Regions from separate parts of the Homo sapiens genome. Here region 2 is linked to region 1. Evidence: fine-mapped expression QTL. A gene starts in region 1. The other region holds a variant in brackets. All regions are shown on one strand. Distances are between the middles of the regions.

Region 1 (2,907 bases):
CACTGCAATTAGAGAGGGAGTGAAAAATCACCTACTCTGATGGTAGATTTCTTTGTCTTCTTATACTTCTGTTCATTTTCGCTTCATATATTTTGTGGCCATATAGTCGCTATGATATAAATCCTTAGATATGTAAAGACTTGCTTTATGACACAGTATGTTAGAGACACTTTTTTGACTCTATCTTCCCTGTATATTGGACTTTTTTTTTAAATGTAAAGACCCTTCTTTATCCCATCGCACTCACCCAGCCATCTACCTAGAGTCTGTTGATGATAAACCATTAGTTGTTTGAAACAGAATTTGCCTTCCTTCTGCCTCTCTTTTTGCCACACATGTAATTCTAAGGTTTTATGTTTTCCCCTTCAGCATACCACTTAATTCTCTTTTTTTTTTTGGAGACAGTCTCACTCTGTCACCCAGGCTGGAGTGCAGTTGCGCGATCTCGGCTCACTGCAGCCTTGACCTCCAGGGCTCAAGTGATCCACCTAAGCCTCCAGAGTAGCTGGGACCACAGGCACACGCCACCATGCCAGGCTAATTTTGTTTTTAGAGGCGTGGTCTTGTTATGCTGGTCTGGCTGGTCTCGAATTCCTGGGCACAAGCGGGCCTCCCATCTCTGTCTCCTCAAGTGGTTGAATTACAGGCGTGAGCCACTGCGCCCAGCTCGCATTTTTTTTTTTTTTTTGAGATGGAGTCTCGCTCTGTTGCCCAGGCTGGAGTGCAGTGGCGCGATTTCGGCTCACTGCAACCTCTGCCTCCCGGGTTCAAGCAATTCTGCCTCAGCCTCCCGAGCAGCTAGCTGGGACAACAGGCACGTGCCACCACGCCCGGCTAACTTTTTTGTATTTTTAGTAGAAACGGGGTTTCCCGTGTTAGCCAGAATAGTGTCGATTTCCTGACCTCGTGATCCGCCCGCCTCAGCCTCCCAAAGTGCTGGGATTACAGGAGTAAGCCACCGCGCCCGGCCTGAGCCGGCATTTTTAAAAGTTGGGTTGCTGGCCTTAGTGCATACAAACGTAAAGGAATTTTAAAAACACATGAGTAACTCAAACGCATTTCTTTTTTGCGCCATCCTGCTATGTGTGATTCGGTTTTTATTCTCGATTTTGTGCGTGTGTGTCGCGACGGCTGGGGACCGACCCAAGAGCAGTCGGACCACGGGCCGCCCAGGGCGGTCTCATCCGTTTATAACCTGCGACCCCGGGGCCTCTTGTGGTCCCGTACCTCCGTCCCAAGCAAAAGCCGGGGCTCTCAGGCACTCAGAGGTGCGAAGGCCCCGTAGACTTGGAGGACGCGAGGAAAACACCTCCAATCACTCTGGCCAGTCCACAGCTACTGCCAAGACTGCTCCGCGCGCGTCCTCAGGAACCGGCGAGGGCCTCGTCGTCATGGTAACCAGATTGCGAACGCGCGTGCGCAAGACACACCTTTGTCACGTGAGGCCGGGCAGGGGGCGGGGCCGGCGAATGCCCGTCCCGACCCGTCGCGCCTCCCCTGTTAGCTCCCTGCCAGCCGAGGCGGGGCGAACCTCTGCCCTGTTGCGTGGGAGTGACTCACAGCTCCCGCCCCTTTTGGCTCCGCTTTCTCGCGGCCAGTCCCTCGCACCACGTGCCCTCCTGGCCGCGCCCCCAGCTGCCCTTTCCAACTGCCTGTTGGAAGCCGCTGTAAAACGTCGTGAGGAGCGCCGCTGCTTTACGGCTGCCTCTCCCAGACTAGAGCCCCGGAGCGCCCACCGCCGTCAGCCGCGTCTTCAAGCTAGTCGGCCCCGCGGAGAGCGAGAGACCCTGCGCACCGCAGCCCTCTCCGCTGCGCCCATTCCTGCCGCCGGCGATGTAACTCGGGGAGGCAGCGGTGCCCGCTGGCCCGGGGTTGAGACAGGCGGCAGGTGCCTGTGAGGCGGGCGGGTGCCGGGGGCCAGCAGGATGGAGGAAAGCATGGAAGAGGAGGAGGGGGGCAGCTACGAGGCGATGATGGACGACCAGAACCACAACAACTGGGAGGCTGCGGTGGACGGCTTCCGGCAGCCCCTGCCACCTCCGCCGCCCCCCTCGTCGATCCCGGCCCCTGCCCGAGAGCCTCCGGGGGGGCAGCTGCTGGCGGTGCCCGCGGTCTCCGTGGACAGGAAAGGCCCCAAGGAGGGGCTCCCGATGGGGCCGCAGCCACCGCCGGAGGCTAATGGGGTGATCATGATGTTGAAGAGCTGCGACGCGGCCGCCGCCGTGGCCAAGGCGGCCCCCGCCCCCACCGCCAGCTCCACCATCAACATCAACACCTCCACCTCCAAGTTCTGTGAGTCCAGCCTTTCCCTGCAGCCTTGGCTTTTCTCCACCTCACTCGGACGCCGAATCCACCCCCTCTTGGAGAAAGCTCCGCTTCCTTTGTTTCAGGCCTCGGTCTTTCCTCTTCTCCCCGTCCGCCTTCGCCTCCCTGCCTCCTTCCCCCTCACCGTCCCCTCCCCCTCATTTGGTGTCTGCGGCCAGCGCCTGAGCGGCCCTGGCTTCTTGTATTACCTGGCCTAGAGAGGCAGCCTGGTACACACGGAGCCCCAAGTTCGGTCAGTGCGATCCCTATCACAACTGGCAGTCTCTCAACATTGGGAAGCTCTTTTCGCACCCGTCTTCTCTTGAAGTTTCACCCTCAAAGTGAGGGGAAAATAAGGCTGCCTGAGTCTCGTTAGGGAAAGGCCTTCAGTCTTCTGCAGCCAGAGAGAGAAAAGAAATCTGGCAACTTGTGTTCTTGTGTTTTTGGCCAGGCTGTGTTAAACAAGTAAGGAATTTGAAAGTTGACCTATATCTACACCTTGTTCCTTCTCTACTGTGTTACACTTTTGCATCCTGCTAGGGAAATAATGAGTTGCTTTCCGATGCAGTGGCAGCTCCGACATCGTCTTGAAGCTAATAATGC
Region 2 (2,907 bases), 22 kb before region 1:
CTGAGGTGGATGTCGGCATTTTCTCCCTATTTCCCACTGGAGGTGGCCCACCCAGCCTGGTAGAGTCTCCCTGAGTGTGTCAAAGCTGGCTGGTAATAAGAATCTCAGATTCCCAAACCCAACCCTGGGATTCTGACCCAGTTGCAGGTGTCAAAGCTGGCTGATAATTAGAATCTCAGATTCCCAAACCCAACTCTGGGATTCTGACCCAGTTGCATAGGGGGAAGAGGCAGGAATCTTTCCCCAAACTCCTCATCTGAGTCTGATCATCTGGAAGTCTAAGAACCACTGACTGACTCAATCATCACATCTGCTACTCACTAAGCCCCTGCTAGACTGAGGAGAGAGTTGGAACCATTGGTACTGGGAGCTCTTACTGTGTATCAGGTACTCTATTAAGCACTTTACCTGCATTATCTTTAAAAAAAAAAAAATCCTTGTGAGAACAGTGAGTACCATTATTCTACCCATTTTATTTTTATTTTTTAAAAACACAATTAGTACATTGATTATTCTATGCATTTTATAGATGAGGAAACCAAGGCTCAGAGATATTAAATAACTTGTTTGAGATCACAAGGTGACATATGGTAGAACCAGGTTCTGACCTGGGCATCAAACTGTGGCCCTGCCCTGTGCCCTGAGATGAGAGACATGCACTAAGGAAGGAACCAGCCATACAAGGCAATAAATTCCAGGTGACAAATAGGAGTGGAGCATGCACAACTTAAGATTTCAGAGGACAGAAAGAAGCCAGTGAGGTCTGGATGTTCAGATGTAAGGGCTGGGCCATCTCCGGTGGGGAGTAGAGTGCAGGAAAGGAGAAGCAGGCAGAAGATAATGGTCTAGATCCGGAGTGTGGAACAGTTGCAGGAGAGAAGCAGAGACCAGAGACCACGTGGGCCCTGGATGGGGAGGTGGAGATAGTGAAACCGACCCAATGTCCCATAGATCATTTAAAAAAAATAAATATATATATATACACACATAGAAATGGACCCTTCTGGTCTTAAAGCTTGAAACTTACATTTGTTTTATCTGAGTTCCTTCCTCAGGAAATGACCTTCAGGCCTCTCAAAAAAAGTATCAGGCCAGGCGCGGTGGCTCACGCCTATAATCCCGGCACTTTGGGAGGCCGAGGCAGGTGGATCACTTGAGGTCAGGAATTCAAGACCAGCCTGGCCAACATGGTGAAACCCCGTCTCTACTAAAAATACAAAAAAATTAGCCAGGTGTGGTGGCGGGCGCCTGTAATCCAAACTACTCAGGAGACTGAGGCAGAAGAATAGCTTAAACCCAGAAGGCGGAGGTTGCAGTGAGCCGAGATTGTGCCACTGCACTCCAGCCTGGGCAACAGAGTGAGACTCTGTCTCAAAAAAAAAAAGTATCAAAGAACTGAAACTCACCAGATCACCCCATCCAGACAAAAAGACTCCAGGCCCTTCGTTCATCATGATTGCTTCCTTCCCCACCTAGTTCCTGTTTTCTTACACATTGTTACATTTATTCCTTGCTGTATAAACCACTAGTTTTGGTTGGTCTGGGAGATGGATTTGAGCCTGAGCTCCTCCTATCTCCTTGGCTGCAGCACCCGATTAAAGCCTTCTTCTGTCATCTCAATGATTGGCTTTCTGTGTGGCAAGCAGCAGGACCTAGAC[C/T]GAGCCCCTGATGTTTCTGTAACAGTAGTACTTGCTTTGGCTCTCTATGGTAAGAGATAAGGATCCTTGTCCTAGGGTGGAGAGATAAATGGAGTCCGGGGACCAGAATTTTCCTGGAAGCTAATACGAAACACCTAACAAACCAGAGGTTTCATATTCAACATAGCTAAAGATAGGAACTCAATGCAAAAACCAAAATGGTGAAAGTTCGCTCCTCTATCTTTGTGGCATCCCCATTGACTGGCACTCAGGGACATGCATCTTCTCTGCCCTTCACTTCCCTTTGCTATGCCTCTGATCGTTTGCAGGAGGCTTGGAGGTATTTTGTTTTTCTACCTCCAGCATTCATGAGATCTCGGTAGTCTTATAATAAACCCTGCCTTCTGCTTCAGTTAGTTTGAATAGTTTCTGATCCTTGCAACCAACATATCCCTGCCTAGAATAGAAATAATGGGGGAAAAAAATAGAAATGACAAATATCGTTTCTGATACAGGCAAGTTGAGATGCAGGAATGGACCACATATGTGGAACTCCACCAGGAAGCTGGGAATTGAGTGATGGCACTTGAGTGATGCATTAGTTAAGATAACATGAGGTGCAGTGGCTGAGAAAGCCTGAAAACCTCAGTGGCTTAACACATGTTTATTTCTTGTTTGTACCATAAATGTGGCTATTTGTGTTCAGGCAGCCTTCATCCAGGAAGTACATCCTTCCTTCTTGTGGCTCCTCCCTCCTGTATAACCCTGGAGTCCTCTGCAGTCAACTATGCCTAGGCCAGGCCTGTGGGAAGCATTGTGCCCCAATGTGACAAAGATCCCCTCCGCTCACTTGCAATCGGCAGTAACAGGTTTTCAGTCACGTGATCCCACCAAAATCCAAGGAAGCTGATGCTGTGGAAAATAGTATGGCTATTCCTCAAAAAGTTCAACAGAATTACCATCTTGACCCAACAATTCTATTTCTAGGTTTCCATTCTCAAAGAATTGAAGACAGGTGTTCAAACAAGTACTTGTACACAAATGTGTGTAACATTATTCACAACAGCTCAAAGATGAAAAGAGCTCAAGTATCAGTCAGTGGATGACTGGATAGACAAATTGTGGTCTAGTCATGCAATGGAATATTATTTAGCCATAAAAAGGAATGAAGTGCTGATATATGCTACAACGTGGATAAACCTGGAAAGTATGTTAAATGAAAGAAATCAGGCACAAAAGGCCACATATTGAATGATTCCTTTTATAAGAA

Alleles and levels. Alleles are on the strand shown, and positions count from the first base shown. SD is a standard deviation of normalised expression in the study named.
With allele C in place of T in region 2, the expression in aorta of the gene that starts at base 1,718 in region 1 is higher (moderate effect, 0.52 SD a copy in GTEx).

What was found. PIP is the estimated chance that this variant, and not a neighbour inherited with it, causes the effect.
Region 2: its variant is fine-mapped to the expression of CACUL1 in aorta (GTEx, PIP 0.92).

Annotation. Positions count from the first base shown.
Region 1 is chr10:118,753,781-118,756,687 of GRCh38, reverse strand. CACUL1 (CDK2 associated cullin domain 1) reads left to right here and starts at 1,718. Exons shown (of 9, transcript NM_153810.5): 1 at 1,718-2,292. The coding sequence starts at 1,926. RefSeq lists enhancers at 1,357-1,651, 1,650-1,789.
Region 2 is chr10:118,775,851-118,778,757 of GRCh38, reverse strand. No RefSeq gene overlaps it. Among named protein-coding and RNA genes, the nearest start is that of CACUL1, 22 kb to the right of the region's middle. The variant C/T (reference allele first, on the strand shown) is at 1,659.